Linked DNA regions of Homo sapiens. The protein of the gene in region 1 purifies or fractionates together with the protein of each later gene. This does not show direct contact. Each region holds a gene or a part of one and is shown in the gene's direction. Other genes may lie near its edges.

Evidence for each region. Proteins that work in one complex are often made in the same cells at the same time.
Region 2: the proteins of DAZL (region 1) and PAIP1 purify together in Homo sapiens (affinity purification with mass spectrometry; one large-scale study listed by BioGRID and IntAct). This does not show direct contact.

Annotation. Positions count from the first base shown.
Region 1 is NC_000003.12:16,591,924-16,595,423, reverse strand, and holds part of DAZL (deleted in azoospermia-like), read left to right. Parts: intron 1-38; coding exon 39-110; intron 111-840; coding exon 841-891; intron 892-1,655; coding exon 1,656-1,769; intron 1,770-3,275; coding exon 3,276-3,374; intron 3,375-3,500. UniProt on the Homo sapiens protein: RNA-binding protein, which is essential for gametogenesis in both males and females. Plays a central role during spermatogenesis.
Region 2 is NC_000005.10:43,536,578-43,540,077, reverse strand, and holds part of PAIP1 (polyadenylate-binding protein-interacting protein 1), read left to right. Parts: intron 1-1,042; coding exon 1,043-1,154; intron 1,155-3,133; coding exon 3,134-3,259; intron 3,260-3,500. UniProt on the Homo sapiens protein: Acts as a coactivator in the regulation of translation initiation of poly(A)-containing mRNAs. Its stimulatory activity on translation is mediated via its action on PABPC1. Competes with PAIP2 for binding to PABPC1.

The DNA of each region.
Region 1 (3,500 bases):
TTTATATTATTCATTCTTTCTGTAAACTTGATTTTCAGGCATATCCTACTTACCCAAATTCACCAGTTCAGGTCATCACTGGATATCAGTTGCCTGTATATAATTATCAGGTAATTTAAAAGGGAGTAAAATGATTTACTTTCAGATTTTATTGAGGCCTTTAACTTGTTTATACAAATTGTCTGAATGGTTTGTCATTTTAAACTAGTGAAATGTACCTAAAATTTAAGAAAAAAATTAGTCTAGAATTAAGACCTCTTTATTATTTAGAAGTAATGGAATAATATTTTGACAGGGATATACTTAGCAATAACTTTTCTCTACAACAGTTTTATGAGATTCGGTGTCCCCTTCTGTATTTCAGCATGTATTTTTTCATCTTTGCTGTCAAATAGCCGAAACAGCCAGACGGACTTTCATCAATTTTTTAGGGAGATAGAGTGAAATAAAATTATCCAATTCTTAGAGCACAGAATTCAAATTGTATTTTTATTTTAGCTGACTGCTTCATGATAGTAGTTCTTTGAGACTCTTTACATAGATATGACTGTATCTGTGACCCATAATCATATCTATGGTAATAAATTCAAGGAACTAATATCTCTGAGATTTCCACAATGCCAACTCCAGAAAATTGGGAAAAAGGTGAGGTTTTATATATGGAAGTAACAAGAACATCAGGGATTAGAAACATAAAGTACTTTTTTTTCATTCTGTTTCTTTTATTATAACAACAAAGGAGCCAGCATGATAAGTACTTCAATATTGTGTATCTCGTGTGTTTTTGAAAATTTGTAGGAATATTTGAATAATTTTGGTTTCCTTTTTTTTTTTTTTAAGATGCCACCACAGTGGCCTGTTGGGGAGCAAAGGAGCTATGTTGTACCTCCGGTAAAGTGAATTAGCCAAACATATAATTCCTGTTATTTTAAAGTATTTTTTTTTGTTTAACTATATTTCTTGATTGTTTTCCATGTCATATATGCCTATATTTTTAAATAGTTTTTTGTATTAATGTGTTACATTTTGTTACTTTCTTTTTAACCCAGTTAGAAACTCCCATGGGAGCAACAGTGCCTTCTTCTCTCAGGTTTTTGTGTGCTTAAGCAATGGCTGGTCCACATAATGATAAGTGTTCAGTTACTTGTTGATAGACTATATAATTCAGGAAAGGTAGTATTAATGTGGCTTTAGAATTAGCATGTATCTGCCTAGACTCTGCCTCTGGCTTTACCAGCCATAAAAAAAACTGTTGAAGAGGAACAGAAATGTTTTGCTGTTAATTACTGTTAAATAAAAATAGGAATAAAACAAGAGTATTACGTCTAAAACACCCAAGCTGCTGTCTTTTATCAGGATTGGAAATTTGAAGGATATAATAAGTGTTAAAATTCTCAAACACTCTCTTACTACATTAGTTTCTTAGAGTTCTTCTACTTCTGATTATGTTGATGCCTTAAAGACATTCTAAAACAGAAGGCTGCCTTACTGTATTTCAACTGTTCATTTAAAACAAAGTTTTTGAAATAATATAATTGAATTTCAACACAACCTACATTGAAACTTTTGATACCAGCTTAGCTTTTTGAAGAATAAGTGGCTTTTAAATATATCTGTATATCTGTTTAATTACACTTTCATTATTTTAAATATAGGCTTATTCAGCTGTTAACTACCACTGTAATGAAGTTGATCCAGGAGCTGAAGTTGTGCCAAATGAATGTTCAGTTCATGAAGCTACTCCACCCTCTGGAAATGGCCCACAAAAGGCAAACATCTAATTTTGTTTATATATATTTCATATTTATTTTTTCTAGTTTTAATAATGGTTTTTTGAGAAGCAATCATCCTTCAGCAGAAATTTGTAATTGAAAAGGTTAACTAGAGAAGAGTTAGTTGACTGGCTTGACCAAATAGTAAAAGAAAATTTTAGATACAGAAAGCAGATCTTGGCTGGGTGCAGTGGCTCACGCCTGTAATCCCAGCACTTTTTGGGGCTGAGATGGGTGGATTGCTTGAGCTCAGGAGTTCGAGACCACCCTGGGCAAGATAGGAGCCATAAATTATAGATCTTAAATAATTGACTAATATTCAGCAGTTAATGTAAAGGTTGGTGAAATTTCAGATAGCCCAAATTTTCAATGTATACATAAAGTTTCTGATTCAGCAGTCCTTTCCTATATTCCAGTTCCACTAATTTTTAAAAACCATACTTCAATAAATACTATATTAATAGGATTTGGCAGAATGTTATGGGAAGGTTTCCTCAAGAATTCTACTCTTCAAAAGAGGAATTGGTACGAATTACATGTACCTTTTCTTTTATAATTTTGATATTTACTTAAACAGTGAAACACATTACTTACGGCATTCTCTCTGTAACATTATATATGGCAGTAGTTCCCAACAGTGGTGAAGTCAGTAATAATTATTCAAATATTGAATTAGGCAGGGTTCTTTCTTCTTTTTATCATTAGAGCAAATTTCCATAATAATACTATCACTCTTGAATCACATATGTTCTCTTAAATGAGCGGGAGTGTAGAAGTAGTTGATGTGTTGGTAATATGTATAACACTGAAGTCCCATTGGAGTGTAAATTCCTTGATTTGATACTCGATTTTAAAATGCGAATAAATATTAAAATAGCTTACAGTGTAATTTTCAGGTTTTGTCCTGAATATTTTTTCTTGAAACATTGGAGTTCACTTAGGGATTTAACAAATTCAGCTTTTTAAACCAGTATTCTATCACTAAGGTTCTAAAATCTTTGTCAGAAAACTTGCATATTGAGTGATACGTGGTAAGAATTATGAATCACATTTTTATGAATTTCTTTTTTTTTTTTTTTCCCCAAGACAGAGTCTCGCTGTGTTGCCCAGGCTGGAGTGCAGTGGTGTGATCTTGGCTCACTGCAATTTCCACCTCCTGGATTCAAGCAATTCTCCCTGCCTCAGCCTCCTGAGTAGCTGAGATTACAGGCACCCGCCACTATGCCCAGCTGATATTTGTATTTTTTTAGTAGAGATGGGGTTTCACCATATTGGCCAGGCTGGTCTTGAATTCCTGACCTCAGGAGGAGGCAGGAATCCTCCTGCCTTGGCCTCCTAAAGTGCTGGGATTACAGGCGTGAGCCACCACTCCCAGTCTCTTTTAGCATTTTTTGCATTTCTTTAGAAATAAAGTAATATATTCATTAAACTATCAAAAAAAAACCCTTACTAAGAGTGAGTGAAAGAGTCGTCTTTACATTACTGAAAACTTCTGTGTTTCAGAAATCTGTGGACCGAAGCATACAAACGGTGGTATCTTGTCTGTTTAATCCAGAGAACAGACTGAGAAACTCTGTTGTTACTCAAGATGACTACTTCAAGGTATGAATATAACAGTTACGCACAATTAAAAAGCACACTTGTTAGCTTTAAAGTATCTGTTTTCCTTGTGGTATATGTATTTTGAGATTTCTTAGAGCATTTAATTAACTGTTGGCATTTGACTAT
Region 2 (3,500 bases), on another chromosome or scaffold:
GAACAAGAGGTAATTTATTTTTTCTTTGTTAAAAATTGTTTACAAAGTCAACCTAAACTGGCTGCGTGGAAACCATTCAGTACCCATAGCTTTTCCCTTTGTCTTGAAAAGGAAAACTGTCAAAACCAGTTTTGTGAAGCAAGTTACTTTCCCAGAGTTTTCTCACCTTATCAATAAAGATTACAAATACTTAATAACAAAATGATAAACTTTTACAGTCCATTTAAAAAATCTATGTTAGTAACAATATCTGACACTGTAGTTCACTTATGAAGGCAGTGACAGGATTATTGTGCCTAGTTTAGTTACCTTGTAGGAACTATGACTGACAATAAGCTCCAAGAAGAGGATTTCTTCTTTTTCTCCTCTGTGTGAAGCAAATGGGTCAAGTCAGGGGCAAAGAGAGCAAGGAAAAATCAGTTATTTGAAGCTGTCAGTCTCATTGGAAATAGAAAACAAGTCCGGTGCTTTCTATATTGTGGTTTTAATGGGGGAATTTTTTCCTCACATTAGTACTTCTCTGATACGTATAATGGAAATTACAAGAATAATGGACTTAAAAACAATTCATTTTATTTTCAGTTGGAGGTTGTGTGTGTGTGTGTGTGTGTGTGTGTGTGTGTGTATTTAAAGATCCTTTTCAAAGTTGTAGTATTAAAAAAAAAATTACAGAGACAATTTGGGTAAAATCAGTGCTTTCTTAGTAAAAAACCTATAAGACAAGGTGAGGCTCTCTCTCCCCTCTTTGGGCTGCCAGTATGCTGTGAATCAGATTACACCTATGTTGCTTAAACATATTAAATTTGATAAAAATCGTTGAAAATAAAACTATCAGTTTTTTCAAACTGGGAGACTTAGTATGAAAAGATGGTGTATATTCTAGCCTCTTCAATAGTCAGGAACAGTTTCTTTATTGTAGAAAGAGCATTGGGACATTGTCCTTGCCTCTTGCTGTGGACAACCAAACTGACAAATGGTTATTTTGTTTGACTATTTAAAAAGCAAAGCAATGTGAGATTATAAAAGATATGTCTTTAATTAGATGTCGGACTGAATATGAAGTTAAAGATCAAGCTGCAAAAGGGGATGAAGTTACTCGAAAACGATTTCATGCATTTGTACTCTTTCTGGGAGAACTTTATCTTAACCTGGAGGTGAGAAGTTTTTCTTTTGTTAAGTACTAACAAGGCCTGAGAACATAAGTTGATCTCAATGAGGAATTTGTGTTCACATTGTACTTTTACAACATTAAGAGTGAAATGAAAGAGAGAGGAAAGAAAACATGTTTCGGCACCTGCTAGTGTCTGTGGTTTACTGGACCGTCTGTCCATAACATTTACTCATGGACAGAATGTTAGGAAATAATTACTGAGGTAAAAATCTGCGTACTTTTAGGAAGCTGTGGTTTACATGCAAATTTAAGTTCTTGAGATATCAACAGTGATACCTTTTTGAGTTCTTACATCTTATATATTAATACATTTAGTATGTTGACTTTCAGATGGTGGCTCAAAGCAGTTTACTCTGCAGAACTCTGAGTGAAAAGAGAGACTAGAGTCTCTCTAGGCTTTTCACTCTAATTCACCCAAATAGTTTTTTAAAAATATTTTTTTAATTGACAAAAATTATATCTTTATGGTACACAACACTTTGATATATGCATACATCGTAGAATGGCTAAATCAAGCTATTTAACATATGCATTACTTGACATACTTTTTTGTGTTAAGAACACTTAAAATTTTTAGCAGTTTTCATGTATACAATATATTGTTAACTATAGTCATCATGGTGTACAAGAGATCTCTTGAACTTATTCCCCCTAAATGAAATTCTGTGTCCTTTGACCAACATCTCCCCAATACCCCAACCCCTAAGAATAGTTCTTTTTTGTCCTATTTTATATATTAATCTTCCACATAAAAATGCATTTGTACAAAGTCTACAGCTAAACGTATTTATAAATTTGGGTGGTATACTTAAGTATATGCTTGTTAGTAGGCAATAGAAGTGCTGGATTCAGCACGGCATTATTACTGTGTAATAGATTTGCTTGATTTTTTTTTTTTTTTTTTTTTTTTGGGTGGGGACAGTCTCGCTCTGTCACCCAGGCTGGAGTGCAGTGACGTGATCTCGGCTCACTACAACCTCCGCCTCCCGGGTTCAAGCGATTCTCCTGCTTCAGCCTTCTGAGCAGCTGGGATTACAGGCACGTACCACTATGCCTGGCTAATGTTTATATTTTTAGCAGAGATGGGGTTTCACCATGTTGGCCACGCTGGTCTCAAACTCCTGACCTCAGGTGCTACCCGCCTCAGCCTCCCAGAGTGCTGGGATTACAGGCATGAGCCACCATGCCCAGCCTCTGCTTGATTTTTTAAATTAGTGAATATCAGATATAAGCTTATACCTTCTTACACCCTGATTTGAGAACTTAAGATCGTAAACGCCATAATATCAGAAACATCATAAGACAATGTGAATCTATCAAATGTGCATCTCAGTCATTGTATCTAAAAGGTCTATGTCCAGTCCAGAGCCTAACTTACTATGCCTTTTTACCACAGGTAGACTTAGTTTTTTGAAAAATCTTATGCCATGTTCTTTTTCAGTCTAATTTTTGTTTAAGCCAAAATATGGACAGCAATCTAAAATAAATACTGTTGAGCATTTTCTATATGGAGATAATGATGCTAGGTCAATGGGGGATGTAAAGATAAGGCTTAGTTCCTGCACCTAAAATTCTTCTACACAGTGATATAAGATACATATACCACTCTGATGCAAAATACCATATTTTAAAATATTTTAAAAGCAGAATAAAATGCTGTGTGTTCAAAAAAAAGTGGTAGTTGAACAAACTAAAGAAAGCTTTATGAAGTAGTAACATCAAAGTGGGCTTAAATTATGCTGACTCTGGTATTAAATTTTACCCATAGCTTACCAGTTTTATTAGAGGTCTTAGTTACATATAAAGTAATTCTAACAAATTCTGTGAAGATATCAGAGTGTGTTCCTGTGACTTTTGTGATTTAGCTAAAATGCTTATTTTGCCAACACCTTGTTAGTTCATTTATGTATCTGTATTATATTTTGGCATCATTCCTTTTGTTCTTTTTTTTGGTCCCGAAAGATCAAGGGAACAAATGGACAGGTTACAAGAGCAGATATTCTTCAGGTTGGTCTTCGAGAATTGCTGAATGCCCTGTTTTCTAATCCTATGGATGACAATTTAATTTGTGCAGTAAAATTGTTAAAGGTAGGTTTTTTTTTTTAATTTAACTAATTTACGTATTTACTTATGATTTAGAGGAAGGTTAGTCTATATAGTATACAGATGAATTCAAGATTTATCACTTTAAGGTAAATATTGACATTTTACTTTTTTCTCGAATATTTTGGAAAAGCGAGATATACTTATTGTTTAATATATGAAGCAAGTTCAGAAGTGAAAAATGGAAGTCCTTTACGCCATTTCCATTTGCAAATTCTGTCTTCTT